Regions from separate parts of the Homo sapiens genome. Here region 1 is linked to region 2. Evidence: fine-mapped expression QTL. Tissue or cell type: whole blood. Region 2 holds a variant in brackets; the other region holds the start of a gene. All regions are shown on one strand. Distances are from middle to middle. Region 1 holds the start of MFSD2B (MFSD2 lysolipid transporter B, sphingolipid). Region 2 overlaps ATAD2B (ATPase family AAA domain containing 2B).

Region 1 (15,750 bases), 240 kb before region 2:
CCTCGTGGGAGCTCCAGCTGCACTCTCAGCGCTGCTGGTGCCCTTCCCTGTGTGGACATTGGGACACTGAGCTGTACTTCCTCCGTGAGGCCTCGCATGGCCTTCAGCCCAGCCTTCCCACACTCAGTGCCCCAGGCCAGGCCTGGGAGTCTTGGAGGCTTCATCCAGCCCCGTGCCATCTGGGGAGGGAGAGTCCCCAAGAATGTCTCTGAACTCCTTATCACTCACAGTCAGTCCCCAGTGCACCTGCGATATTATCCAGTCTTGTCTCCTAACCACCCAGTGGGTTTCTGCTAGGAAATAGGGCTGTGACAAACAGTGACCTCAGGGCCAGGACCAGGTGCCTGGATCCTAAGGACTGAGCGGTTGCTCACCAAGGCATGAGCCGTCCAGACCCTGTCCTCTGGCTCCTGTTGATGAAGAACCCAGCCACAGGGTCAGCAGCCGCCCCAGACACTTTTCCCCCAAACAGAACAAGTGACACCTGGGCGGCAGGGATCTGAAACAGACAGGGGAGGGGATAGAGAGCTGAGGCCCAGCAGCAGCAGAGAGCCCATCCAGGCCTGCTTGCCATCAAGAGGGAGGCCTGGGAACCGGGACCGGAGGGCAGAGCCACAGTGTCAAGGGCTCCTCAGCCTTCCCCAGGATGCTGATCCCGGGGCTGAGTCCAGGGGAGGGAGCTGAGTGCTGCCGCCCTGCACACTCCCATTAGTACTCATGTCAGCCACTGCGGAGAGGACTCCAGGGCCCTCATCTGGGGCTGGCTCAGAGCAAGGAGGGTGCCTCTGGGCTGACAGAGGTGGACACTGTGTTTCACAATGGAAAGGATTCACTGGTTTTTCTGACTATGTAAATAATACACTCATTAGAAAAACATTCTGGCTCAGAGCAAGGAGGGTGCCTCTGGGCTGACAGAGGTGGACACTGTGTTTCACAATGGAAAGGATGCATTGTTTTTTCTGACTATGTAAATAATACACTTATTAGAAAAACACTCAAACTATGCAGGAAAATACTAAGCAAAGCTCATCTGAAATCGCAGCATCCCAAGACAACTGCCAGAATCGTTTGGATGATCAGCCTTTCATAGGCTTCTTCATGTGTGCTTGAGATTGATCAGTTTATATAAATGGGATCATATCAGACTGTCATCTTAAACATTCGTGGATACCTCATTTTATTATTTTATTTTATTTTTTAATTGAGACAGGGCCTCGCTCTGTTGCCCAGGCTGGAGTGCAGTGGCACCATCTCGGCTCACTGCAACCACTGCCTCTTGGGCTCAGGTGATTCTCCCACCTCAGCCTCCCAAGTAGCTGAGACCACAGGCACGTTCCTCTACACCGAGCTAATTTTTGTATTTTTAAATTTTTTTTTTTTTTGTGGAGGTGGAGTTTTGCCATGTTGCCCAGGCTGGTCTTGAACACCTGAGCTTAGACGGTCCTCCCGCCTTGACCTCCCAAAGTGCTGGGTGTGTGAGCCACCATACCCGGCTGGATACCTCATTTTTTTGTTGTTGGTTTTTGTTTTGTTTTTGAGAGGGAGTCTTGCTCTGTCGCCCAGGCTGGAATGTGGTGGTGCAATCTTAGCTCACTGCAACCTCCACCTCCTGGGTTCAAGCAATTATCCTGCCTCAGCTTCCTGAGTAGCTGTGACTACAGGCGTGTGCCACCACGCCTGGCTAATTTTTGTATATTTAGTAGAAATGGGGTTCACCATATTGGTCAAGCTGGTCTTGAACTCCTGACCTCAAGTGATCCTCCCTCCTCGGCCTCGCAAAGTGCTGGGATTACAGCTGTGAGCCACCATGCTCGGCTGGATACCTCATTTTAAAAATTTGGTTTTACTTACCCTCCATTCTCCATCATTCCCTCCGGTAGCCAACATTAACGAGTTGGTGTATATCCTTCTAGAATTTTCTCCATGCTCACATTTTAAACATGGACAGATACATATGTATATATACATATCCATCCACACACACACATATGGAGCCTGTCTTTGTTTTGTTAAAATGGGATCATTTTATATACTCTTCTCTAAAACTAACTTTTCTTTTTCACCAGAGCATCATGGAAATCACTCTAAGTCAACTGGTATAGATCATTATTTTGAATGGCTGCATGATAGTCTATTTGATAGTGATGTTAGTGTAGTCTGTTGACTTCTGTGGGCCACACTGGAAGAAGAAGAATTGTCTTGGCCAGGCACGGTGGCTCACGCCTGTAATCCCAGCACTTTGGGAAGCTGTGGTGGATGGAACACCTGAGATCAGGAGTTCGAGACCAGCCTGGCCAACATGGCGAAACCCCGTCTCTACTAAAAACACAAAAATTAGCTGTAGACTGGGCGCGGTGGTCCACGTCTATAATCCCAGCACTTTGGGAGGCTGAGGTGGGTGGATCACGAGGTCAGGAGTTCAAGACCAGCCTGGCCAGCATGGTGAAACTGTTGTCTCTACTAAAAATACAAAAAATTAGCCAGGCATGATGGCACACACCTGTAATCCCAGCTACTCTGGAGGCTGAGGCAGGAGAATTGCTAAACCCGGGAGGCAGAGGTTGCAGTGAGCCGAGATCATGCCATTGCACTCCAGCCTGGGTGACAGAGCGAGACTCCATCTCAAAAAAAAAAACAAACAACAAATTAGCCGAGTGTGGTGGTGTGCACCTGTGATCCCAGCTACTCGGGAGGCTGAGGCATGAGAATCGCTTGAACCTGGGAGGCAGAGGTTGCAGTGAGCCCCAAGATCACACCACTGCACTCCAGCCTGGGCAACAGAGTGAGACTCTGTCTCAAAAAAAAAAAAAAAAAAAGAATCGTCTTGGGCCACATATAAACACATAAAATACACTAACACTAATGATAGCTAATGAGCTAAAAAAAAAAAAAAACAAAAAAATTCATACTGTTTTAAGAAAGTTTACAAATTTGTGTGGGGCCGCATTCAAAGCCGTCCCGCCGCGGGTTGGACAGGCTTGGTCTATTATGTGGCTATGATACAGCTTACTTAGCCAACTGCTTCTATATTGTCGGGGATCTACATTGTTTCTCATTTTCCCACTACAAACAGGCTGCAGTAAACATTCTTGAGTACCTTGCCCTCATTGGCTTCTGGCTTTTTGTTGAGCTCGTGTCAGAAGTGCTGTCTACAAGGATAGTGGGAGCAGAAGCAGAGGTGGGGGTGGAAGGACCAGACCCCAAGGAAGATGCCAGCAGAGACTGGGCTACTGCCCACACTTACCTGTGCTATATCAAGCAGGAAAAGCTGCAGGTAAAAGGCTGTGGCGCTGGAGGCTATCTGGTTGGGGACCCCACCAATGCCATAGCACACCTTTGTACAGAATGAGAGGCGACCGGCTCTGCTGTCCTGGAGGAGACACAGGAACTAAGCCCTTCTCCCAACAGACACAAAACAGGTCCCCACACCCCATGACTTCAGTAAACATCCTGAGTCTCTGTGATGTCTTCAGGGCTTTTCCAGCAACCTCTCAGCCCCATTTTGCCCCCATGTCATCCTAAGAGGAAGTGAGACGAAGAGAAAAAAGATCCTAAACCCTGACCTCTAAACATTTCCAGGGGGGAAGTTCTTCTGGACATCTTACCCTGGGCTTCCTGCTGAAGCCGCCATCATTTACTGAGTCAGCACGGCCGTGTAAGCTGCAGGTCAGGAGACCTGGGCTTGAGCCTGCCTTTGTCACCTACCCCTCTATGTGACCTTGAATAAATCACATCATCTCTCTAAGCCTGTTTTCCTCATCTGTCAAATGCAACATCCCTGCCAACTTCACAAAGTTGTTTCTTCGATGAGTAAATGAGGCGATAGCTCATTTACCCATAGCCTGCCTACCCACAGCCCTCCAGGGATGCCTGGCAGGCGTCTCAGCTTAGCATGGTCTACATACAGCTCCTGATGGCCATTCCATTGTCTAATCCAGCTCCTAGCAAATGGCACCGCTGGTCCCCTCAGTGGCTCAGGCCACAAACTTAGGAGTCATCTATTCTTCTTTCCAGTTCTTGTCTATCAGTGAATGCCTCCTAAGTGGCTTCTGTGTCTGCCCTTGCTCCCTACAATCCACTCCACCCAGCAGCCAGTGCTCTTGTAATAACATAAATCGCACAGTGGCTCATCCCTATAAACCCAGCACTTTGGGAGGCCGAGGTAGGTGGATTGCTTGAGCCCAGGAGTTGAAGACCAGCCTGCCCAACATGGCAAAACCCCATCTCTACTAGAAACACAAAAATTAGCCAGGCATAGTGGCCGCCTGTAATCCCAGCTACTCAGGAGGCTGAGGCAAGAGAATTGCTTGAACCAGGGAGGCAGAGGTTGCAGTGAGCAAATATCACACCACTGCACTCCAGCCTGGGTGACAGAGACTCAGTCATAAATAAATAAATAAATAATCAGATCCCATCTCCTCTCTGATTAAAACTCTCCAATGGCTTGCTATTGCAGGGTTTTTTTGTCTGTTTTTGTGTGTGTGTGTGTGTGTGTGTGTGTGTTTTGTTTGTTTGTTTGTTTGTTTCCAGATCCATGGTATTCAGTCAATACCATTGCAGTTTGAATAAAACTCCAAGTCCTGATCATGGCTAAGGAGTCCACCCAGTCGGCCCCCTACCCACCTCACCTCAAATAGCTCTCCTTCAGCCACGCCGGGCTCCTTCCTATTCCTCAAAATCATCAAGTCTGTTGCTGCCTCAGGGCCTTTGCCCTTCCCATTCCTCTGCCTGGAAGGTGACTCCTTGTCATTCTGGTTTGATGTCACCAGCTTAAATGTCACCTCCTCCAAGAGGCATTCCCTAACCTCTCACCTCTCTCAGTTGTACTTACCGCCTGCTATATTTTCATTTAGTTCCTGCCTCTCCCTACAGGAATGTAAGCTCTCTGAGAGCATGAACTCCACCTTTTATTTATCATGGTGTTTCCAGTACCTAGAACAAAGCTTGGTATACAGTAGGTGCTTAGTATATATCCGTTGAAGCAATAAATGGCCATGAAGACCCTGTGTAAAGTGCTGTTTCTTTGGAAGAAGCTGGGCTCTTTTCTCATCGTTTGCTGGGGGCTGGAGGGAGTGGAGATGACATGGCTTCACCCATTTCCACATCTTGCAGGACACCCCAGCAGGCTCTTGTGAAGGGAAGGTCTCCCCAGATAAGGGTTTATCACACTTTGCACACTCTTCCTACCCACAGGGGAAAACCACACTGGGGGCAGGATGATTCTTTTCTGACATTTGTGTGAACATCATTTCAGCTTCCAGAAAACTTTAAGAACAGGCAGAATTCAACGTGACAGTCCCCCTCTCCCCCTAATGGGGACTCTTGTATCCCCCAAAACAGGCCTAGCAAGTTTTTAGAACTTTAGAAAGAACTTCCAAGTGAAGCCAGGGATATGATCCCATCTTGCCGTCTTGAGGATGACAGTTTTACCGAAAGTCATAAAAGCCCGGTACAGCTGTACAGTGAGCTGTACAAGGAGAAGCCCCTTGGGAGGGGCGGCTCCGGGCGAGGGGCGCAGCCCTGCTATCTCTAGCTGCGTGACCCAGGGCAGGGCACCTCGGTCTCCTTGGAGTGACCGGGGCTGCCACCCCTCGGAGAGTCGTAAGAGGATTCCACGCCGGAACTTCATCAGCAATGCGAGTGTTTCCCTCTTGCTGTTAATCTCACCCTGAATTTCTAAGTTTCCCTGGGAAGTGAGAGTCCCCGGAGAGCCCCTTCATCTCACCTCACTTTCTTGTGGGATGCAATCCTGTGCTCCCAGGTGCCTCGTAGGAAGCCCTGAACAGGCTGGGGGCTGAGGTGGTCAGGGGAGGCCACAGAATGCCCTGGGCACGAGCAGGGAGCAGGCGCGTTCAGTGAGGCCCAGGAAGCCCCAGGCCCCTTGCTCCGTCCAGCACAGCCCCACTGGCCAGCACGGCCCGGCGGCATCGGGCAAGGGACAAGGGGCCCCGAAGACCCCGCCGCTCCCACCTGCCCTCCTCCCTTCTTGTCGGAGCCCATGGCCAGGACCTTCCCTGAGGCTGCCTCCAAGGGGAGCCTGGTGCCTGGGCGAGGCCAGGGTCTGGGAGGGAGGCCGAGGCCACAGCAGCTGCCTGAGGTCGGGAAGGACGCAGCCTCCCCAGGCGCTTCAGAAAGCCCTGCCTGCCCAGAGCTCGGGGACCCCGGGAGGACCTGCGGTGGCACGGACAAGACCCCTAAGCCGGGAATCAGGACAGCAATGACCACGCATCCCCAAGTTACTTCCTTGGCTAGGGCTAGGCTTCCCGTCCTAGTCTCTTTCCGGCGCCGGCACCTACCAGCCTCCCCGCTCCCAGCCGTGTAACCCCGCGAGGGCAGCCCCTGAGCTGGCAGGTTTGGGCCGAGCCCCTCCGGGCTGCCCCCAGCTGGAAAAGGGGCTGCGAGGCGACGCCCTGGAGCTCCCCGAGGACGCAGCCCCTTCCCGGTCCCCGCCGCCCCGCTCACCTCTCGCCCTCGCTTGGCGCTCCCCGGGCCGGGCTCTGGGGCGTGCGGCTCCGGCTGCGGGGACCCCTTGGCGGCTGGTGCAGGGGGCGCCGCCATTGCCACCGCAGCGCCGCCCGCGGCCGTTGCCCTCGGGGTTATCGCCCTTGGGAGGGGCGGTTCTGGGCTAGGGGCGCGGCGCGAGTGGCTGCTGGCAACGCGGGGGAAACGCAGAAACCGCGAAGGGCACCCCAAAGGGAAACAGCGAAGAACCAAAATCCGCGGGGGGAAAGGCCCGGCAGGCCCTCAGGACCGTTCTCCTTGGGGTGGATCCCCGGGGGCGTGAGCGCCCGCAGACGGCGGCCCTGCGCGCTAAGGGCTCCGCCAGACCGCTGGGGTGACCGCGGGCAAGCAGCAGCTCCCCTGCAAAATGAAGCAAGAGGCCCGCTCGTTCAGGCTGGACCATGGCTGAACAGGCATTCCGCCGGCTACACATGATGCCCAACGCCTGAAATATACATTGTCGAGTCTCCTATACAGACCACGGGGATGGCCAGTAACTAAGTTCTGGCCAGCGAATAAAAGCAGGTGGCACAGGCCAACATTCCAGAAAAGTCCTTAAAAGGGAAGGGGGGTGACAGCAGGTAGCTAGTCAGCCTCGAAAAGGGCAGGAGAGGGCCACGCTTCCAACCAGGTACGTCAGGCAACCATCAGGCGACAGTCAGGCGGTTGTTATGCTCCCTCTAAAATGATCATTGATCCAGCGGGGCCAGGGAAAGGCAGTCTCCCAATAGATAGAGAAAACCTGAAACTGGTGATCAGCTTCTCGGTAAGATCTCAGGAGCTGGGCAAGTGGGCTTACACAAATTGCGGAGTTTAACTGACATGTGACCCTCGAAGGACACCGGACTGGTAAGGGAAGAACGCCTCCAGTGAGCATGGGTACAACTCCAGTATACACAGTGTGCACACTCCCCTCCCAAGTGCTGGCAGACCACTGCCCATGCAGGCAGGCCTCCCAAGGGAAGAATCAGGGGAGAAGGGATGCAAGACCCCAGAAGTATGCCAATGCATAAGACCCCAGGTCAAAAGGTCAAACTGTGCGCTTCTTTTTCAGGTCACCCGCTTGGCCCTCTTCCAAGTGTACTTTCCTTCCTTCCATTTCTGCTGTAGAGCTTTTTAATAAACTTTTATTCCTGCTCTAAAACTTGCCTCAGTCTCTCCTTCTGCCTTATGCCCCTCAGTGGAATTCTTTCTTCTGAGGAGGCAGGAACTGAGGTTGCTGCAGACCCATATAGATTCACTCCTGCTGACATATTTTGGTGCCACGTGACTCAGATACCTTCCACCAGTAACAGGGGTACACATTAACTAAAAATGCATCATAGACCTAGAATGTAAAACTTATGAAAAAACAGGAGCAAGGGACAGGCACGGTGGCTCATGCCTGTAATCCCAGCTACTCGGCAGGCTGAGGCAGGAGAATCGCTTGAACCCGGGAGGCGGAGATTGCAGTGAGCCAAGATCGTGCCACTGCATTCCAGCCTGGGTGACAGAGGGAGACTCTGTCTCAAAAACAAAAACAAAAACAAAACCAACCAAACACAAAAAACCCAGAAGCAACTCTTCATCATATTGGGCCAGGCAATTGTTTCTTAGGACGCCAAAAGCACAAGCTGGATGAACTACAAAAGTTTTCAAAATGAAAACCTTTGTGCTGTAAACGATTCCAACAAGTGGGTATAAAGACAACCCACAGAATGGGAGAAAAGGGATTTGTATTGGAATCAACTTTCACAACTCAACAATTAAAAGACAATCCAATTCTAAAATGGGCAAAGAATTTGGATATTTCTCTAAAGATATACAAATGAACAGTAAGCACATGGAAATACAAATCGAAACTACAGTGAGACACCATTTCATATCCACAGGGTGGCTGTAATTAAAATGAGACAAGTATTGGGGAGGATGTGGAGAAATCAGAACCCCTATACACTGCTAGTGGGAATGGAAACTAGTGACAGTCCTTTGGAAAAGTTTGGCAGTTTCTCAAAGTAAAACGTGGAATTACCACATGACCCGCAATTCCACTCTTAGGTGTATACACCCTACAGAAATGAAAACATGTTCACATAAAATCTTGAACATGAATGTTCATTAGCAGCATTCATATATATATACATATATATATAATGTGTGTGTGTATATATATATGCCAAAGAGGACACAAGCCAATGTCCATCAGGTTATGAATGAATAAATATAATGTGGTATATCCATACAATGGACTACTGTTGGGCAAGAAAAAGGAATGAAGGACCAATGCATGCTACAACACAGATGAACCTTGATGACAGTATGCTAAGTAAAAGAAGCCAGTCACAAGACTACAAATTGTATTATTCCATTTATGTCAAATGTCTAGAATAGGCAAATAGAGAGTGACAGAATGTACATTTGTAGTTGCTTGGGACTGGGCTAGGGAGTTACTGCTAAGGCATGTGAGGTTTTAGAATGGACAAACATTTTCTAAAGTTAAATTGTGATGGTTGCACAACCCTATAAATACACTAAAAACCATTGAATTGTATACTTTATTTTTATTTATTTATTTTTTTGAGACAGAGTCTTGTTGCCCAGGCTGGAATGCCGGGGCACGATCTCGGCTCACTGCAACCCCCACCTCCCGGGTTCAAGTGATTCTCCTGTTTCAGCCTCCCGAGTAGCTGGGATTACAGGCATGTGCCACCACTCCCGGCTAATTTTTGTATTTGTAGTAGAGATGTGCTTTCACCATGTTGGCCAGGCTGGTCTTGAACTCCTGATCCTCAGGTGATCCACCTCGGCCTCCCAAAGTGCTGGGATTACAGTGAGCCATCGGCCTAGCCTGAATTGTATACTTTAAATGGGTGAATTGCACAGCATGTGAATTACATCTCAATAAAGCTGTTTAAAAGGAAAGATATCTGCTTCTTCCTATTGGCTGAAATACAAATGTGTCGGCTGGTGCTAGTGCAGCTACCCTGAGACCCCAAGTCTACAGAGTGATGAGATTGGCAGATCAACAGTACAGGAATCTGATGATTTTATGAGGTTGATCTACCAGCCCTGAACTGCTTCCCTCTGGACTTTTGCATGGGAAATAAAATTTGACCTTGTAAGCAACTATTATTCTGGATTTTCTGTCACAGCTAAATCTAATCCTAAAGGATACACTACCCAGTTTAGAGCAAGTCATTCCATTTTATATGTCTTAATTCCTTAATCTACAAAATGGGTACATTTTGTTTCCCTGATTGCAAATACAAGGATAGATTAGATAATGCATGTGCTAAATATTTAATTCCTTGGAAATTAAATATAAACTAAAGCCAAAGTTTCTTTAGATAATCTACTTTTACAATTTGTGGGTTTTTTTTTTTTTTCCTTTCTGTGGAGAATAGGATCTTGCTATGTTTCTCCGACTGGTCTCGAACTCTTGGGCTCAAGCTTTATTCCTGCCTCTGCCTCCCTAAGTGTTGGGATTACAGGCGTGAGCCACTGTGTTCAGCTAGATAATCAATCTACTTTCAAGTACATCCTACTGATACGCATTTTTAAAAGGTTTGGAAATATTGCATTCTCAACACTTGTACTTTGTTGTTTATACTACTGCAATTTTAAGTTTGAAAGGCAGCAGGTAAAAACAATTTTAAAAATTAAAAAATGACTGGGCACAGTGGCTTACACCTGTAATCCCAGCACTTTGGGAAGCTGAGGTGGGTGGATCACCTGAGGTCAGGAGTTCAAGACCAGCCTGACCAACATGGCGAAACCCCGTCTCTACTAAAAAAACATAAAATTAGTCAAGCGTGGTGGCGGGCTCCTGTAATCCCAGCTACTTGGGAGGCTGAGGCAGGAGAATCGCTTGAACCTGGGAGGTGGAGGTTGCAGTGAGCTGAGATCGCACCATTGCACTCCAGCCTGGGCAACAAGAGTGAAACTCCATCTCAAAAAAAAAAAAAAAATTAAACAATAACTCTTTTGGACAGCAAAAAATGTAATTATAATAAAAGTCATTTCCCTAACAGTCAGTATTCTATTTAAAGTGATGGTAAGTTCATAATGTAATTTTTAATGCAAAAGACAAATTAGATTTCAATAAAGTAGGATTAAATAACAAAGGCAGCTGCCTTTTAATTAAAACAAGACTAAAAGCTGATATACTAAAAAATATCTGAAAGGATGCACATCAAAATGTTACTAGTAGTTTTTAATTTCTAATTTTTATTTTTTACTTTTTTCTTTTTCTTTTTTTCAAGACAGAATCTTGCTCTGTCGCTCAGGCTGGAGTGCAGCCACATGATCTCGGCTCACTGCAACCTCTGCCTCCTGGGTTCAAGCGATTCTCCTGCCTCAGCCTCCCGAGTAGCTGGGATTACAGGCGCGTGCCACCATGCCTGGCTAATTTTTGTATTTTTAATAGAGACGGGGTTTTACCATGTTGGCTAGGCTGGTCTGGAATTCCTGATCTTGTGATCAGCCCACCTCGGCCTCACAAACTGCTGGGATTACAGGCATGAGCCACTGCGCCTGGCTTTTTTTTTTTTCACTTTTTAAACTATTCACAGGTGTACTACCACTACTGATCAGCATTCGTTCTTGCTCCTTTTCCAATGGGCAACCTGGTAGTCCCCCGTTCCAGTGAGATCACCAAATTGATGCCAAACTTAGTGCAGACACCTGACCGACTGGCAGAGCACACTATACCCCAGAACTTCTGGGCTCAAGCGAGCCTCCTGCCTCAGTCTCCTGAATAGCTGGGACAACAGGCATGCACCACTAGGACCAGTAGTGGTTATATGTGAAAGGCAGAATAATAGGTGATTTAAGGATCATTTTAGCATATCTGCATATTATAGTTTTCTATAATGAATATAAATTATCTGTGCAAAAAATACATTAAAACAAATGACAAAGCCAAATACTGGTCTACTGAATAAGCCATTTCCATCTGAAGGTTTAGTGCAATGAGCAATTTTTTCATAAAATGGTTTGTACTTAGGAAAAGAACAAAGGAGTAAACCCTACTAAAGAGTCTTCATGCTAGTTCAGCTGATAACACAAAGAATAAATGAAAAATTAAACATATCATTGAGTTAGTATTCAAAAATAGCACATCTTTACATTTCTGAGTATTAAATGAAAGTAATGTTGGTTAAAGCAAAAGCACCTAATAAATGTTTGTTGATTATCAAACTGAATGACTTTGCCAAATAAAATGACAAGTGTATTTGCATATAACTATTTTATAACAAGGGTAAATGATTTCACAGATCCTTTTAATGAACAGTATTTCATTAACAGTTCTTCAACTGTCAGCAAAAGATTGCTCTCAAAATACTTTAAGGCACTGAAATAGATGCACACATATTATCAACATGCTGAAATGTCATGAAAAATTATACCGAGAGAAGTATATAAAATAAGATTATTTTTTAAACTGAAAAAAATGCATAGTAATTAACCAATAAACCACAATCTGTAACATTAGATATGTATTTCTTTTTTTCTTTTTTTTGAGACGGAGTCTCGCTCTGTTGCCCAGGCTGGAGTGCAGTGGCACGATCTCGGCTCACTGCAACCTCTGCCTCCGGGGCTCAGGTGATTCTCCTGCCTCAGCCTCCTGAGTAGCTGGGACTACAGGCGCACACCACTACACCCAGCTAATTTTTGTATTTTTAGTATAGACGGGGTTTCCCCATGTTGACCAGGATGGTCTCGATCTCTTGACCTCGTGATCCATCCACCTCAGCCTCCCAAAGTGCTGGGATTGCAGGCATGAGTCACCGTGCCTGGCCTAGATATGTATTTCTATATATCAGCCCTAACAATTATTTTCAAGAAACTGAAGACAGTTTTGAAACAATTGCTTAGGTCAAATTGTATGCCCCATCTAAGGTGATTATTTTCAAGTTTTCCTTCCCTTAGCAAATTGTTTGTTTTCCAAAGTCAACCTCTTTTGATAATTATACACATTTAACTAACAATTTTACAACTTTTAAATTCTCAGTTAAAAAGCTTTACTGGATGATTCTCATTGTAGAAAATCTTTGAGGATATTATTCGCATTAATGAACGTTTCACAGTTAGAATAATGAAGGTTATTGATGACAACAGGTCTTTCTCCATAGGACCCTTACTGGGATGTATTCTACAGGTACATACAAAAGAACCTCCCATGTATCTTCTGGTTAAATAATTATAAACCGGAAAATCTACCAAAGAGGCTTTTCTATAGGTACACAGGAAACATTCTCAATGAGAGACCCCTACATGGAGAATCATATGTTGACTATAATTATGCAAATAAAAATGCTACATGATAGGCCTATATGAAACATTTTCTTAGATTCCTGAACATGTATTAACTGTCATCCTGTTATTTTCTATATCAGAAAGATAAGCTCATTGATTTTATCATTGCCTCTTTTTTTTTTTTTTTTTTTTGGTAAGAACATTATTTTTGTTTCACTACAGAGAGGCTCTAACACTGCTGTGTAAACATTACCAACAATAATTATTTATTTTCTATTATGTACCTGTTCATTTCTAAGAGTAATGGACAAAAGAAAAGGCTCTCCTTTGTCCTCCCTCTCTTCCTAATTAAAAGAGCCTTCTGCCCCATGGAAGGCTGGGAGCTAGGAAAAGCAGCATTCTCACAATAGACTGCAATCAGAAGATAGATTTTATGTCAGGTCATCTAGTTACATAGATATTTCCCTGTTGTTATTCCTGAGTCCTTAGTAAAAACCTTAATTAAATGTTCCAGCCTTGTCTCGGCTGTGCTATAGGAGGTAAAGCACAAGTTTATGTCATGATTGGTTCAGTGACAAAAGGGAACAGACTCTTTCCAAGAGCAAACTGGGTGACAAGGATAAACTTAGTGGTCTAGCAGATGTGTTTCAGTGGAGTCTCCCACCGTCCATGGTGAAAGCATGCAGGTTTTATTTTCTCAGGGTAAAAGCTTAGGACAGAATTTCCTGAAGAAAGGTACTTCCACCACATACTTAAGAATCACGTGAGATTAAAAATGCAGAGATCTGAGACCCATCACAGATACAGTGAATCAGAATCTTTGTGGTAGGTGGCAGGAATGGCATTTTTGAAAAGCTGCCCCAAATGATTCTGAAACTAAGGCTTCAGAATCATTGTGAACCATCACTTTATATAGATTGGTTCTCAAAGTGTGCCTGAGGGATCCCTGGAGATTCCCAAGACCCATTCAGGGCACTGTGAAGTCAAAACGTTTTTCATAATCATACTAAGGCATTATTTGCTTCTTTTCATTCTTTCACCAGTATACAGAGGTGTTTTCCAGAGTCTACATGATATGTGACTGCACAACAGACTGAATGTAGAAGACATGAGAACCCATCTATCTTCTTTATGACAGAAAGTAATTCCCCCCAAAAAACCGGCCACTTTTCTCACTAAATCGTTTCATGTTTTATAAGTTATTATTGGCTGGGCACAGTGGCTCACGCCTATAATCCTAGCACTTTGGGAGGCCAAGGCGGGCGGATCACCTGAGGTTACGAGTTAGAGGCCAGCCAGGCCAACATGGCGAAACCCCGTCTCTACTAAAAATACAAAAATTAGCCAGGCGTGGTAGTGGGCGCCTATAATCCCAGCTACTCGGGAGGCTGTGGCAGAAGAATCGCTTGAACCCGGGGGGACAAGTTGCAGTGAGCCAAGATCGCGCCATTGCACTCTAGTCTGGGGGAAAGAGCAAAACTCTATCTCAAAAAAAAAAAAGTTATTATTATTACGGCAGGGTCTTACTCTGTTGCCTAAGCTAGAGTGCAGTGGCGCAATCTCGGCTCACTGCAACCTCTGCCTCCTGAGTTCAAGCAATTCTCCTCCCTCAGCCTCCCTAGTAGCTGAGATTACAGGCATGTGCCACCACACCAGGCTAATTTTTGTATTTTTAGTACAGACATGGTTTCACCACATTGACCAGGCTGGTCTCGAACTCCTGACCTCAGGTGATCTGCCCGCTTTAGTGTCCCAAAGTGCTGGGATTACAGGTGTGAGCTACTGCACTAATTTTTGTAATTTTTATAGATAGAGTTTTGCCTTGTTGCCCAGGCTGGTCTCAAACTCCTGGGCTCAAGTGATCCACCTGTCTTGGCCTCCCAAAGTGCTAGGATTACAGGCGTGAGACACCATGTCCAGCCAGAAGTTATTTTTAAATGAATAATTTTTTTTTTTTGAGAAAGAGTCTCGCTCCGTCACCAGGCTGGAGTGCAGGGGCGCAATCTCGGCTCACTGAAACCTCCACCTCCCGGGTTCAAGCCATTCTCCTCCCTCAGCCTCCCACGTAGCTGGGACTACAGGCGCATGCCACCACACCCAGCTAATTTTTTTTGTATTTTTAGTAGAGACGGGGATTCACCATGTTGGACAGGATGGTCTCAATCACTTGACCTTGTGATCCGCCTGCCTCAGCCTCCCAAAGTGCTGGGATTACAGGCGTAAGCCACCGTGCCTGGCCCATAAATAAATATTTTAAAAATTTAATATTTAATATAATAATATATATAGCTCACATAAACAAATGGTCTTGAGATAAAAATGTTTGAGAGTTGCTGTTTCATAGCAGGCATCTCGCACCCTATGAACATTACTGCTGCTATGGACCACTTAGTTCCTTGGCACACTCAATGCATGCTTCATTTTAAATCTGATTCAATAGATCATTTGCAAAAAAAAATGTTAAACTTATTTTCAGGTATGGGGATTTAATCTGACAGTGAAAAATTGAGGTCTAACTGGATTTAGTTAAAGTCTGAGATATAAAGCCTGTTTTTCTTCGTGATATCAAAATGAAATAATCTTTAAATGTATTCACAAGTTGACTCTGATGTATGAAACAGAAAACCAGCTGGGCACGGTGGTTCACACTTGTAATCCCAGCACTTCAGGAGGCCTAGGCAGGCAGATCCCCTGAGGTCGGGAGTTCGAGACCAGCCTGACCAACATGGTGAAATCCCGTGTCTACTAAAAATGCAAAATTAGCCAAGCATGGTGGCGCATGCCTGTAATCCCAGCTACTTGGGAGGCTGAGCAGGAGAATCTCTTGAACCCGGGAGGTGGAGGTTGTGGTGAGCTGAGATTGCGCCACTGCACTCCAGCCTGGGCAACAAGAGCGAAACTCCATCTCAAACAAACGAAAAAGAAACAGAAAACCATACTTTATATGATGCATTTAAAAAATACTAGTAATGTGACACACACCGGCATTATATTCTAAGTGAGTGGTGGCAA
Region 2 (15,750 bases):
AAATGCAGTTCCACAATGAAAGAATATGGCTCTGCTTTCTTCACTTGTTCTGATACAAAAAGTGATATTGTTCAAATGCATTATTTTGGCTGTGTTTAGATTTTTTTCATATCTTTCATCAAGCAACCTCTTTTTTTTTTCTTAGCAACAGAACCACTTGTTATGTTCCAGAAAAACATCCTCAGGGTGTGTTGTGTAGCAAGTGGAAATTACATGAATGTTGTATTACGTTTACAAGTTCCCATGAGTATTTGGAAGCTTACAGTGTTCTCTTTTACAGAACACTTGGCCATTTGGGGAAAAAACTAACATATACATAGAAGACAAAAGCCAACATTTTGAAAGATATACACGTTGCCTAAGTGTTGACCCAGATTGTCTCCCTTGAGGATGATGGGAACAGAAATTAAATGATGGGAACAAGAAGAAATTGACCTGTGTTCTAAATGTGACCAGTATCAGATATTTGGCCCTAATTACTACAGTATAGATACATGATATATTATGTTTGGCTCATCCCCATTCTCGGTCTTGCAGTTCACCCCTCCTATATCCCCCAGGCCTATTCATATGCTATATACCATCATTTGACTAGTTTTGCTGAAATTTTCGCCCTAATGTTTTAGTTGTCTCAAAATCTTCTATGTTGTTCAAATTGTATAGGATTAAAGCCCCCAGATTCACCCAAACTTTTGGAGCCCTCTGTGTTTTGCTCTTAATACATTTCTAAATTTATCTGCCACAGTTGTATTTCATGAGTTGTTTCAACCAAACTCACTCATTTTTCTGTTAGTGTTTATGAGTACTATCTGCTAATTACTGAGCTGGGTGCCTAGACTACAAAGATGACTCTGACAATTCTTGCCTTTTGAGACCAAGATATAGATATAGATATAGATATAGATATAGATATAGATATATCAGTATTATGATAGATCCATAATGCCTACCGGATAACTACTATGTGGCAGGCATTATTCTATATGTAATTGTATTAGTTTACTAGTGCTACCATAACAAAATGTAACAGAAATTAATTTTCTCACAGTTCTAGAGGTTATCAATTCAAAATAAAAGTGTCAGCAGGTTGGTTTCTCCTGAGGCCTCTTTTCTTGGCTTGCAGATGGTGGCCTCCTTCTCTCTGTGTCCTCACATGGCCTTTTCCCTATGCTTGTGTGCCCTTGGTGTTTCTTGGTGTGTCCAAATTTTCTCTCCTTGTAAGGACATCAGTCAGATTGGATTAGAACCCACCCATATGTCCTCATTTTAATTATCTTTTTAAAGGCCTTGTCTCCAAATACAGTCATATTTTAAGGTACTGGGAGTTAAGCCTTCCACATATAAATTTAGAGGAGATGCATTTCAGCCTGTAACAGTTATATGAAACACAATCCCTACTATATAGAAAGTCATCAATTTTTAGAGATGATAAATACACTTATCAAATTATTGGTGATTATAATAACAAATATTATTAAGATAAAGGGATACCATAGAGGTGGCAATCATGAATAATGTCTTAAGGTGCCAGCAGATGATTATAAGACAGTGTCATAAGGTCTTATTAGAAATACGTTACCTGGTTAGTGGAGCACAGAGGAGAAGACACTACCTGGAGATTAGCAAGATTGGGAAGGGCATTGACTCTAGGCTGAGGAAACAGAGGTATGAAAAAAACAAGTCTGGAGAATAGAGTGCCTCTGTGGAGGAGTAGTGGGAAACTAATTTGCTTCTCTACTCACTGACTCAACGTTTATTGAGCATCTTTTTGTTAAATATTCTCTGTGTATAAATCCTGTTTAAGGCTAGAGATACACAGATGGTTAAGACACAGCCTTGACCTCTTAGTATCAAATTTGGGGTAGAGGTCAAGGCAGTTGTAAGATGGAGGTTGGAACATCAGTTAAGATTTAATTGCAGTGGCTGCAGGGATTAAATATAGAGGTCTTAGTGACCAACCATTTAAATATGGTGGACAAAAACCTAGAATGATCCCTGAGGTTTTGGTCTGGTTAGAGGAATCTGGGAAGGTAAACCAATGGAGGAACAGATTTATGGGCAGGATGTCAAATTCAATTTGGGACATGTTAGTATGAGTCATATTTGGTAAACCCAGACAAAATGCAGACTTTATTTATTTATTTATTTATTTTTGAGACGGAGTCTTGCTCTGTTGCCAGGCTGGAGTACAGTGGCGTGATCTCGGCTCACTGCAACCTCCGTCTCTCGGGTTCATGCGATTCTCCTGCCTCAGCCTCCCCAGTAGCTGGGATTACAGGCGTGTACCATCACACCCAGCTAATTTTTGTATTTTTAATAGAGATGGGGTTTCACCATGTTGGCCAGGATGGTCTCGATCTCTTGACCTTGTGATCTGCCTGCCTTGGCTTCCCAAAGTGCTGGATTACTAGTTGTATATGTGGTTCTGGAGGTTGAAAGAAGTGGGCAGGAGATATGGTTGGGAGTCATCATCGTAGAGGAGTGAATGAGATTTCATAGACAGTGTGTAGAATGAGAAGAGAGAGGAGCCCAGGAGGGCCCCTTTTCTAGGAAATATGGGTCCCAGTTCTTGCCCAGTGTAAGTCCCAGTCTTACTGTTTCAGGACCCTTGTCAAATGTATCGCCTCTACTGGGAGTATTTACATGTTTTTCTTTTTAAATCAGTTTTATTGAGATATAAGCAACATACAAGAAAATGTACTTTTTAATAGCATGTAGCTTTTAAAATCACATATCGTTTTAAAATTTCACCTACCCGGCTGGGCACGGTGGCTCACGCCTGTAATCCTAGCACTTTGAGAGGCCAAGGCGGGCGGATCACGAGGGCAAGAGATCGAGACCATCCTGGCTAACATGGTGAAACCCCATCTCTACTAAAAATACAAAAATTAGCTGGGCATGGTGGTGTGCGCCTGTATTCCCAGCTACTTGGGAGGCTGAGGCAGGAGAATCGCTTGAACCTAGGAGGTGGAAGTGCAGTGAGCTGAGATCATGCCACTGCACGCCAGCCTGGAGACAGAGCAAGACAACGTCTCAAAAAAAAAAATAAAACATAAAAAAATAAAATAAAATTTACCTACCCTTCAGGGAATACTAAAATGCTAAGTTCATGAAAGATTTTTCTGATTTCCTTCCAGTTGTAAGTACCCCTTCATCTCTGAATCTCATAATGTAACTTTTCTGAGACATTTATTACTTTTTTGCCCATAGTTATTTGTTTACTTATCCTCATCCTTTATTTTAGACTCGAAGCTGATTGAGAACAGGATCTGTATAGGCATCTTGTGTAAAGCATGTTCTTAATAAATGTGGCCGATGAGTAAATTTTATTTATTATTCTATTTTTATTTTATTTACTTATTTATTTTCAGACAGGGTTTTGCTCTTGTTGCCCAGGCTGGAGCACAATGGCACGATCTCAGCTCACTGCAATCCCCGCCTCCCGGGTTCAAGCGATTCTCCTGCCTCAGCCTCCTGAGTAGCTGGGATTATAGGCATGCGCCACCATGTCCGGCTAATTTTTGTATTTTTAGTAGAGACGGGGTTTCACCATGTTGGTCAGGCTGGTCTTGAACTCCTGTCCTCAGGTGATCCACCCGCCTCAGCCTCCCAAACTGTTGGGATTACAGGTGTGAGCCACTGTGCCTAGCCTCTATTTTTAGATACTAACTCAAGGAATCTCAGATTAAGTAGAAATTATAAAATGGAGACATGGTAACATTCTGTAGAAATATGCATAAATACTAATAATATATAAATATGACCTGAACCAGTAAATATAGTTAAAATGTTTTTCTGTTTTTTGTTTTCTTTGGAGACAAGGTCTCATGCTGTTGCCTGGACCTGAGTACAGTGGCATGATCATGGCTCACTGCAGCCTTGACCTCCTGGGCACCAGTGATCCTCCCACCTCAGCCTCCCGAGTAGCTAGGACTACAGCTACAGGACTTACAACCATGCCTGGTTAATTTTAAAATTTTTTGTAGAGATGGGATCTTGCTAGGTTGACTATGCTGGTCTCAAACTCTTCAAGTGATCCTCTTGCTGCATCCTTCCAAAGTGTTGAGATTACAGGTGTGAACCACCATGCCCAGCCAAATTTCTTATTTATGAAATTATTTGGGATGAAAAATCATACCATAAAAATGAGCTTTTCTTAAAAATATGGTTACTCTTAATAATTTTGTTGAACAAAATCTCAGCTAATATACTTCTGGGATTTTTTTTTCTTCATAATGAACTAAAAGTAAAAGTTTACCAATTACAAAAGAAACATCAACACAGTGAAATTGCTGTTACATTCATTAAAGTACTGCTTCTATTAATTTTATAGATACTCATCTATATGTCCTAAGTAGCCAGTACTTTTTGCTGAAGACAAATGTAAGTGGTAATATCTTTATTTTATAGATGAGGAGATGGGGGCTCAGAGAGGTTATATAATTACCTGTGTGCAAACCCACAGATGTTATATGGCACAACTGAATGGATTGAGAGCTGTCTTGACTTCAAAGCCAATATATGGGGTTTTTTTGCTGTGCTTATGTAACTTGGAAATTACATGGATTTGGACAGTCTTAAAATCTTAAAGTATGAGACAGAGTGAAAACTCATAAATATATAGTTTCTATTCCCACACAATTTTAAACCTAGAGTTTTAAGTGATGAGTGAGTCTCTGAATCCACAAACAAAATTATATTCATGTGCAGTTTTCAACTTTTATTCTATTCTTTTTTTCCCTCCCGCAAGAGGGGGTCTCACTCTGTTGCCTAGTCTGGAATGCAGTGGTGCGATCATGGCTTACTGTAGCCATCATAGCTGACTTGAGACATCGACCTCCCTGGCTCAAGTAATCTTCCCACTTCAGTCTCCTGAATAGCCGGGACCACATGAGCCACCAAGCCTGTCTAACTTTTTAATTTTTTGCAGAGATGGGGTCTCCCTATGTTGCTCAGGCTTGTCTGAAACTCCTGGCCTCAAGCAATCCTCCTGCCTCAGTCTCCCAAAGTGTTGAGATTACAGATGTGAGCCAACATGCCCAACCATGTTCTGTTCTTATATGAATCCAGGTCAAAAAGATTAAGAACCTAGGATTATCATAGACATCCCTTCTACTTTGAATATTCTTCTAAGTTTGTGATTATATGCTATGTATAATCTTAGACAATCTTCTAAACAATGATTGAAAAGAATTATAATGATAGGCACATGAAAAAGCAATGCCTTGGCCCGGCACAGTGGCCCACACCTGTAATCCCAGCACTTTGGGAGACCGAGGTAGGCAGATCGCTTGAGCCCAGGAATGTGAGGCCAGTGTGAAACCTGGGCATGGCAAGACACCATCTCTACAAAAAGTACAAAAATTAGCCAGGCGTGGTGGCGCATGCTTGTGGTCCTATTAATAGCTGCTCGGGGCACTGAGGCAGAGAGGACTGTTTGAGGCCAGGAGGTTGACGCTGCTATAAGGCATGATCATGCCACTGCACTCTAGCTTGGGTGACAGAGTGAGACCTTGTCCCCCACCCCCATCCCCCCAAAAAAGCAGTGTTCCCTCTCAAATGCAGATTTTTTTAAAAGAATATATTCCTTGTCTTCCATACTAGTGGGAAATTTTTATGGATTTTTTTTCTTCATTTATTCTTTTTTCTTGCTTAATTTAGGGTAGTGTTGGGATAGAAGATACACTTTATAAAAAGCAGAAAGACCAATCATTGAGTTATTTTAGAGACAATATGCCAGATCCATACCTTTAGATTTAATCTTACCTTTTTTTTTAGTTTCTCTTCATTCAAGCCGAGGTAGAAAGCCAGTGGTGGAAAGCTGTGGTATTGCATAGGCTACAAACATTGTATTGTCAACTTGAAAGTATAGCTACTTCTAAGGATGTTGATGTTCATTGTAGTTTTTTATTTATAGTAGCTAAAATTAGAAGCAACTTAAAGCTTCCAAAAAGAGAACAATACTTTTGAAAAATTAAGGCACATCCTACTTTGGATTGTTGCACAACTATTAAAGTTTGGTTTTCAAAGAGTGTTTAAAAGACACCAGGAGACTTCTTCTTTTCTTCTTCTGGCCAAGATGAAGTAAAAGGGACTCGATTTATTTACCCCCTCACATGACACAATGAAAAAAAAAATGAACAAAATATATTTAAAGAAAAACTGTTTGGAAGGCATTGGACACCAGGCAACACAGGACAGTGATTCCCAAAAGATAGAAACAAATAAGAGGAGTAGTGTGGTTGCCTGGAGACAATTTCCAGATACCAGCCCCAGGAGGAGCAGCCCAGGCATATTCTGGAGGTCCTCTGAACTGGGGAGCCAGACCTGGAATCTGAAGAGGCCACAGTGGTTTGGGTTTGCAGGGCAGATTACCAGAAAGAAGAAAGCTGCACAGAGAGAACACTCTGGCTATCTCCAGGAGGTCCTACCCTAGTGTTTAACTAAGTACTGGTTAGTGCATATGTGTGAGAAAACTATCTGAGGCCAGAGAAGGAGAGGGAATATTCCTTAAAGTTCACACAGGGGCCGCAATAGAGTTAGAGCTAATAAACCAACAAGGAGATAAAATGGAATCATAAAAAGGTATACAGTAATTCCAAGAGAAGTGAGAAAAAGAGGAAAAAGGGAACAAAAAACATATAGGCCAAGTAGAAAATAAATAGCAACCATATCAATAATCACATACATCACATTAAAAGTAGATGCTCTAAACCAGGGGTCAGCAGACTATCATCAAGCTGACAGCCTGTTTTTGTAAGTCAAATTTTTTTACTGGAACAAAATTATTCCCCCTATCCCCGCTTTTCAGTTCAGTGATAAATGATGTCTACAAAAAGCCTACATTTCTCATCATACTAGTGATGAAAGAGTAAGTACTTTCTCCTTAAGATCAGAAACATGACCAGGATGTCTGCTCTTACCACTTCTATCAACATTAAACTGGAGCTTTCAGCCAATGCAGTAAGGTAAGAAAAAGAAATAAAGGCATCCCTACTTCCAGAAAGAAAGAAGTAAACCTGTTGTTGTTTGTAGACGTATGATGTCTACATAGAAAATCCTATGGAATATTTAAAGAAGTTATTAGAACATGTAAGTGAAGTTAGGGTTGCAGGAGACAGGATCAGCATGTAAAACACTTGTTTTTCTATATACTAGCAACAAACAGGAAATTGAAATAACATCAAAAAATAACATGAAATATAGATAAATCTGACAAAAGGCATGTAAGACTTATACATTGAAAACTATAAAATATTAGTGAGATAAAGAAGACCCAAATAAATGGAGATATATGTCATGGCTTATGGATTGGAAGACTCAACATTATGAAAATGTAATTTCTCTCCAGATTGAACCACAGGTTCAACACCATCCTATCAGAATTCCAGCAGGCATTTGATAGAAATTGACAAGCTTATTCTAAAATTCATATGAGGATGAAAAGGACCTAGAGTCAAAACAACTTTGGAAAATAAAAACAGCTGGAAGACTTAATACTACTTTATTGTAAGACTTAAAAAGTTACAGTAATCTAGACAGTGTATGTTGGCATGAAGTTTGACAAATAGGTCAATGGAATAGGATAGAGTCCTGAAATAGATGCACACATAGAGGGTCAATTGCTTTTTGACAAAGATGTAAAGTCAGTTCAATGAAGAAAGTAGATTAAATTTCAATAGACAGTGTTGGAACAATTGGATATCAGCATGCAAAAAAAGACTTTGTATGCAGAAGTTGACTCACAATGGATCACATACCTGTATACAAGA[A/G]CTTAAAACCTATAGCCAGAATATTAAGTCTCAGAATTTAATAATAACCCAATTTAAATAATGGACATAAGAGCTGAAGACACTTTACCAAATAAGATATACAGAAGACAAATACACACATGAAAAGATACTCATCCTCATTAATCTTTTTATTTATTTATTTATTTGTTTATTTATTTTTTGGAGACAGAGTTGCTCTGTCACCTAGGCTGGAGTGCAGTGGCATGATCTCAGCTCATTGCAACCTCCGCCTCCTGGGTTTAAGCAATTCTCCTGCCTCAGCCTCCCGAGTAGCTGAGATTGTAGGCACACACCACCATGCCCAGCTATTTTTTTTTTTTGTATTTTTAGTAGAGATGGGGTTTCACCATTTTGGCCAGGCTGGTCTCGAACTCCTGACCTCAGGTTACCCGCCCGCCTCGGCCTTCCAAAGTGCTGGGATTACAGATGTGAGCTACTGTGTCCGGTCAACCTCATTAATCTTTAGTGAAATGCAAATTAAGACCACAGTGAGGCCGGGTACAGTTGCTCACGCCTGTAATCCTAGCACTTTGGGAGGCCAAGGTGGGTGGATCACCTGAGGTCAGGAGTTGGAGACCAGCCTGGCCAACATGGTGAATCCCTGTCTCTACTAAATATACAAAAATCAGCTGGGTGGGGTGGCACACACCTGTAATCCCAGCTACTCAGGAGGCAGAGGATGCAGTGAGCCCAGATTATGCCACTGCACTCCAGCCTGGGCGACAGAATGAGACCCTGTCTCAAAAAAAAAAAAAAAAAAAAACCCACAGTGAGACACCATTAAACACTTGTAATAATCGTCTAAAACTGAAAAGACCATATCAAATGTAATCAAGGATGTAGAGTAACAGGAACTATGATGCACTGTGGTAGGAATGTAAAATGAAACAGCTGACTTGGAAAACAGTCTAGAAGTTTCTTAGAATGTTTAACATATGTATTATAGTCATCCCTCCATATGTGTGCTTTGAAACCTGTGGATACAAAGGGCTGACTGTACTACCTCATTTTATTTATTTATTTATAAATAAATAAAGAGACGCTGTCTTCCTCTGTCACCCAGGCTGGAGTGCAGTGGCGCTGTCTCGGCTCACTGCAACCTCTGCCTCCTGGGTTCAAGCAATTCTCTGCCTCAGCCTCCTGAGTAGCTGGGATTACAGGCGCCTGCCTCCACGCCCGGCTAATTTTTTTGTGTTTTTATTAGAGATGGGGTTTCACCATGTTGGTCAGGCTGGTCTTGAACTCCTGACCTCGTGATCCACCCACCTTGGCCTCCCAAAGTGCTGGGATTACAGGCGTGAGCCCCCGTGCTCGGCCACTACCTCATTTTATATGAGAGATATAAGCATCTGGAGATTTGATATCCAAGGGGAGATGGGGTCCTAGAACCAATCCCCTGCGGTTGCTGAAGAACCGTACCTATCATTTGACCTAGCCATTCCACCCCTTAGTATTAACCCAAGGAAAATTAACGTGTATATTTCCATACAAAGGTTTGTTCATCAATGTTTATAGTGACTTTGTTTATAATAGCCAAAACTCAGAATTATCACTAATGTCCACCAGCATGTGAATGGATAAACAAATTGTGTTATACCCATATAATGGATTAGTATTCAGCACTAACAAATAACGAAGTACAGATACATGCAAAAATAGGGACCAATAATTATTTTTATGCTTAAATAATTATGCTGAGTGAAAGAATCCTGATTAAAAATATTCTTTGTGATTCCACTCGTATATATAATTCTAGAAAATATAAACTGATCTATAGCAAGAGAAAGCAGATCCTTCATTGCTTGGGAATAGAGGGCTGTGAGGAAGGGTGAAGGGAGGAAAATCAAGGGTCACAAGAAACTTTTGGTGATGATAGATATGCTCATTGTCTTTTTTTTTTTTTGGAGACAGGATCTTGCTTTGTTGCTCAGGCTGGAGTGCAGTGGTGTGAACATGGCTCACTGCAGCCTCAACTCCCTTGGGCTCAAGCGATCCTGCTGCTTCAGCTTCTCAAGTAGTTGGGACCACAGGCATGCACCACCATGCTTGCCTAATTTTTGTACTTTTTGTACAGGGTGGAGCAGGTAATGGGAATGAGTCAGAGTGGAGACACGGTGGCTCGCCATGTTGCCCAGGCTGGTCTTAAACTCCTGGGCTCAAGCAGTCCTACTACCTTTCCCTCCCAAAGTGCTTTGACTACGGGCACGATCACTTCCCCTGGCCCATTGATTATCTTTATTGTTGTGGTAATGTTATGGATGTGTACTTACCTCAAAATGTATCAAATTGTATACTTTAAGTATGAGCAACTTATTATATGTCTATTATGCTTCAATAGATCTATTTTTAAACTTAGGGAAGTACAATATGTTAATAATGCAGATTACAGAATCATTGTGGTTTTTGTTCATAAAGAGAATTGTTGAGACACATATTCATGTGCTTACATGGTATCTCCATTGGGATATTTTTTAGGCATCTCCAAACTGAAATGCCTGAAGCTGAACTCTTTGAGATTACTCTCTAACTTCTTTTCCTCCTTTCCTCTCTATTCTGTTTTTTTTTTTGTTTGTTTTTTGTTTGTTTTTGCATCTTTATAAATAGTATGTCCGTCTCCCCATTTTTTATGCAAGAAGCTAGGAAATCATCTTTGATATTTATGTTACCCTCTTATCTACTTTATCACCAAATTGTGTCATTGAGAGCACATTTCAAATCTGTAATCTTGTCTTTCACCACCACCACCACCATTACCCCAGTTCAAGTCATCATCCTCTCTCACTAAAATAAAGCCTAGTGACTATGCTCCCTGGTGTTATTCTTGACTCCCCTCAATCCAGTGATCAGAAAACAACCACAGCAGATCTTTTCAATGATTTTCATTGCTCTTAGGATACAATCTGAAATCCTTTCAATATGATCAGTTTCTCTTTGCCTCTTGCTTATTATGTTCTGACTACTGTTATAAATAGTTTCAGTACCTCAAAAAGCACTTGAATATAAAATTTTCTTTTTAATTCTCAGCAAGGCAAGTTTTTCTATAGAAGGGTGCACCCTTACAGATGGAGTAATGGTGGGCGCCCACTTGGACAAGGGAGGGGAAGGGTTTATTATCCCTGATGCATGTGGCCCCCCACTGCTGTGTCCTTCTCCTGTTGGCTAGGGTTAGACCACACAGGCTAAACTAATTCCGATTGGCTAATTTAAAGAGAATGACGAGGTAAGTGTTTTGGCGGGAAAAATGGTTATGACAGAGCAGGTAATAGGAATGAGTTAGGGTGGAGTAGGTAATCGGAATGAGTCAGGGTGGAGCAGGTAATTGGAATGAGTCAGGGTAGAGCAGGTAATCGAAAAAGGTTGCTTTACGAGGAAGTTAAGTTTAAAAGTAGAAGGCAAAGAATTGAACATACTGACATATTGATTCTTTGAAAAGAAATTTAGAACTCATAACACTACACTGGCTGCATTTCAGTTTCTTGAAATCTCCAAACTCTTTACAGCAGGATTTTCTCACATGGTATTTTCTGAACCTGCACTAGTTGTTTTTTTTTTTTTCCCCCCTTACTCTTTCAGTAGCTACTCCAGTCTGTGCTTCAAGTGTCAGTTTAAATGCCTGTTCTTCAGAGAGTCTTCTTCCTGACTTGCTCAATCTAAATTGGAACCCACACCAGTACCCTGTAGGTTTTCTTCATAGCTGTTTTTCAGGGTGTTTTGCTTTTGGGTTTTTTCTTTTTTGGAGGGAGGAGGTGTTAATTTGGATGTATGAGAGATGATTTGTTCCTGTAGTGGTCTGAAAAAGTCCTTGAAAGTTGATATCATGTATGTTTTGTTCACTGCTGTGGGTGGCCACCATCCAGCTTTCCCTGGTGCAGTCGACAACATTTGTTGAGTGAATGTTTAGAGAAAATGTGTTGGAAGTAAATATCAGTGGTGCCTTTGAGTGGTGCATGTTTGGTTTTGTAAGATTACCACAATGAGCCATAATAACTTTCAAATCAGAAAAGTTATAAAGTGTCTCTGTAACTTTGTCTATACTGTTTGCCCTTACTAGAGAGGAAAAAGCAAATGTTGTTTTGCAACTCTGGATTCTTGCTCTTGATACTGTTAGAATATTAGTTACCTTGATATATTACTTGCCTTTTCATATTTCTGAGTTGCACAGATCTAGGGGGCACTGTTTATATTGTATTGTTTATGAATGGGAACTTCTGGATTAGTGTGAAGCAGAGGCTCCTCTTTTAGTACCATTTTTAGGCATAGTTTACCTGGAACCATGTTTATGCTTCTCTCCTGGATCTACCTACAATGTATACACCATCTTGTGCCCTTTAGCTTAGAAAGTCTTTCTGTATTTCTCTGTTTTTGTCACATTTAAAAAAAAATAAGTCACCTTTAAAATATATTGTATTCTTTAGCATAGTTTTGACCAATGTCAACTTAGGAGAAATTTAAGATTTTTTTGAATTCCTAATATTAATCTCTGACAACTCTGGGGCTGGGCATTTGGTGAATATCCTCTAAATACTTTTTAAATTTTTACTGAAAATCACATATTTCTGTTTTCAGAAATTTGAAACCATGTATCTTTTTCTTGTAATTCTCCAGACTGCTTCAGAAATGGTAATAGGTTTAGTCCTTTGAGGTTCTTAAAGTATAATTTTCAGAGAATTACTAACTTGACTGAGTAGCTTAGTATATTTATTTTTTTACCCATACTTTAAATAAACTTTTTCTCACCTAGCAATGCTTTTTATAATTTTGTTTGTATTCTTTTACTTTTTAAGATGTCCTTTGTTAATGTTATTTTATTTGTTTCTATAATAAATATATACCAACTTTTTTAACAGATAAAATAATTAGGCACAGGGCTTGTACCCTGAAGGACACTGCACATGCTATCATTGCAGCTGAATTAGATCCAGAATTTAATAAACTTTGTGAGGAAATTAAGGAAGCAAGAATAAAAAGAGGTAAGTTGTAGAAATAAACTTGGTACTGAAGCCTAGTGTGCTCTGTTCAGGCCAAGAGTACTTGAACGCTGTTTCTTTAGGATTGCTGGTATTATGAAAGTAATGTATTTAATGTATTTATTTAATTTCTGATACTAATGTGTTATGTAAATTCTCAAAGATATTTTACAACTTTACCTACTGTGAAAGTTTTAGTGTGATAGTGTGTATTACAGAAATAAAGTGTTTCTTATTGAAATTTGTTTTGTAGGAGTATATCTTTTTTAAGAATTGATTTCTAAATGGATTTAGATATTAGATATGAAAAGGTTTTATTTTTCATCAGTTTACTTTCTGGTACTTTAAAAACATGTTTAGGTATACTGTTTTTCCCACCCTAGTGAAATTTATATGCAATTTTGTTATTAGAAACACAGAATTAGCAATTGTGGTTTGTCAATTCAGTTTATAATCTTGTCCTTGAGGAACTCACATTTTAGTAGGAGAGAGAGAAATGTAAAACCAATCAAGTACAGTGTGGTGTATGCACTGGTTGAAGCATGTTCAGAGCACAGAGATGAGACCTCCCAGTAGGGAACCCAGCATTTTGATCAGAGTAAGGAGTGAATATAGAAGTGTTCTCTCTAATGGACTAGGGAGGCAGTGATAGAGGAGGAGGAGGTGTATTGCACACAGAGAAAACAATAGCATATGTAAAGGCACAGAGGTGTGTTAAACTGGTATTGCTAAAGAAATACAGAATGCTGGAAATAGGGCTCAAGAGGTGCGGGGTCTAGGACACAAAAATTATGAAGAAACTTTTCTTCTACCTTTTTAGAGAGCTCTTCCCTGACCACCTAATCTGATAGAGGCTTTGGTAGCATTTGGCATTATATTATTTGTTTTTTGATCGTGTCCTCCTTATTTAGGATATCAGCACTTTGAATGTCTTGTTTATATCTCTGCTCCAGTCCCTAGAACCCCATCTGGTATAAAACAGGTTTTCGGTAAATATTTGAGTAAATCAATGCCATGCTAAGGAGCTTGTGATTTATCTTGTAGATCAGTGTTTTCAAAAATGTCTGCCTATTACCCACTTCAGCTTAGACCTATGAATTAGATTCTCTGAGAATATTAAGGCCAAGAAATCTTTATTTGAACAAACTATCCAAGAGTTTTTATGTACACTAAAGTTTGATAGCCATAGGCAATAGAAATCATTGAAGGATTTTAAGCAGTGAAATGAATTGGTCGAATTGCCTTGGCGGGAAGAAGTAACATGGTTTCAATGTGCCAGGGTAGGAAGATGAAAGATCAGTTTAAAAGCTGTTGGAGCCCATTTGAAAATGGTTTGGCAATTTCTAAAAAATTAAACATGGATTTACTGTATGACCCAGTGATTCTACTCTTAGGAATCTACCCAAGAAAAATGAAAATATATGTCCACATAAACATTTGTATGTTCATAGGAGCATTGTTTATAATAACCACAAACTGGAAACAACCCAGATGTCTGTCAGCTGGTGAATTGGTAAAGAAAACATAGGATACCCATACAAGCGCATACTACTTAGTAATAAAAGGGAACAAAGTACTGTTACACAGTACAACATGGACGAACTTCAAAAACATGCTGGCTGAACATGGTGGCTCACGCCTGTAATCCCAGCATTTTGGGTGGCAGAGGTTGGAGGATCGCTTGAGCCCAGGAGTTTGAGACCAGCCTGGGCAACATGGCAAGATACCATCTCTACAAAAAAGTGAGAAATATTAGCTAGGCGTGGTGGTGTACACTTGTGATCCCAGCCATTTGGAAGGCCGAGTTGGGAGGATTGCTTGAGCCCAGAAGGTTGAGGCTGCAGTGAGCCATGTTCATGCCACTGCAGTCCACCCTGGGTGACAGAGCAAGATGTTGTCTCAACAAAAAAAACCCCAAAACATTATGCTAAGTAAAAATAGCCAGACCCAGAAGACTACATATTGTATGATTTCTTTTATATAAAATGTCCAGAAAAGGCAAGTCTATAGAGACAAAAAGTGGAGTAGTCATTGCCTGGGACAGTTATCCAAAATTGGATTGCTGTGGTGATTTTACAATTCTATACATCTACTAAAAACTATTTATTGTACACTTAAAACAGGTGATTTTTATGTTATATAAATTGTATCTCAGTAAAGCTGTTGGGGAACAAAAACCTGTTGGAGTAGTCCAGGGTTTTAATTAATGAAGTAGGAAGGGAGTTAGAAGAGATTAATATAAGTGAGATGTAGCCGCAGGGATGGAGAGCACTGTGAAGTGAAGGAAGAATAAAAACTGGCTGCCATATTACTGGTTGAGTGACTTAGTAGATACTAATACTCCCAATCTAGATAGGGAATCTATAAGAACAAACTGTTTTGTTTTGTAGGGAAAGATAAACCAGTTATCTTTAATTTGATCTATCTTTAGGAAATTCAGTTGGAGATATGAAGTAAGGAGTTGTATATATGGATCAGAAGTTGTATATCTGGATCAGAGATGTTTGGGCTAAAGATACAGATTTGAGAATTATTATATAATAGTAATTGAACCTGAACACAATGATACTTCGCTGGGGAATGTGTAGATTAGAGTAAGAAGAAAAGTGGTTACAGAGAGAACCTGGAGAAAAACCAACTTAAGGACCACATAGAAGAAATAAATCTCTAGTGAAGAAAATTAAGATAGAATGATTAGTCTTAGGAATATAATGCAGGACAACCAAACTGACTGCAGTGTGGTGCGACAGGAAGCAAATAGCATTTTGAAACAGTTCACGGGAATGGGGTTTAGTAGCCCAGTAGACTGTTGTACATTCTAAGATGGCAGAGGTCATTATTTTTGGATAATATATAATCTTATTGTTCCACAGTCATAATAATGTAAAATGTGCCTCTTTGTGAATTAAAATGAATAAAAATAGGGCCCCTTTGGGGATTAAGTGTAAACATGGCCTGCCAGATTGTTTTATTTTTATGATTTTATATCT

Evidence for each region. PIP is the estimated chance that this variant, and not a neighbour inherited with it, causes the effect. A credible set is the group of variants that fine-mapping cannot tell apart.
Region 1: MFSD2B starts here. The variant in region 2 is the best candidate, but not a certain one, in a credible set for the expression of MFSD2B in whole blood (TOPMed, PIP 0.56).

Annotation. Positions count from the first base shown.
Region 1 is chr2:24,000,905-24,016,654 of GRCh38, reverse strand. MFSD2B (MFSD2 lysolipid transporter B, sphingolipid) reads right to left here and starts at 6,570. Exons shown (of 14, transcript NM_001346880.2): 1 at 6,463-6,570; 2 at 3,245-3,370; 3 at 375-499. The coding sequence starts at 6,558. It overlaps UBXN2A (UBX domain protein 2A), which reads right to left. Exons shown (of 7, transcript NM_181713.4): 7 at 11,746-15,750. RefSeq lists enhancers at 1-28, 29-584.
Region 2 is chr2:23,762,519-23,778,268 of GRCh38, reverse strand. ATAD2B (ATPase family AAA domain containing 2B) reads left to right here. Exons shown (of 28, transcript NM_017552.4): 23 at 12,641-12,763. Among named protein-coding and RNA genes, the nearest start is that of ATAD2B, 160 kb to the left of the region's middle. The variant A/G (reference allele first, on the strand shown) is at 7,773.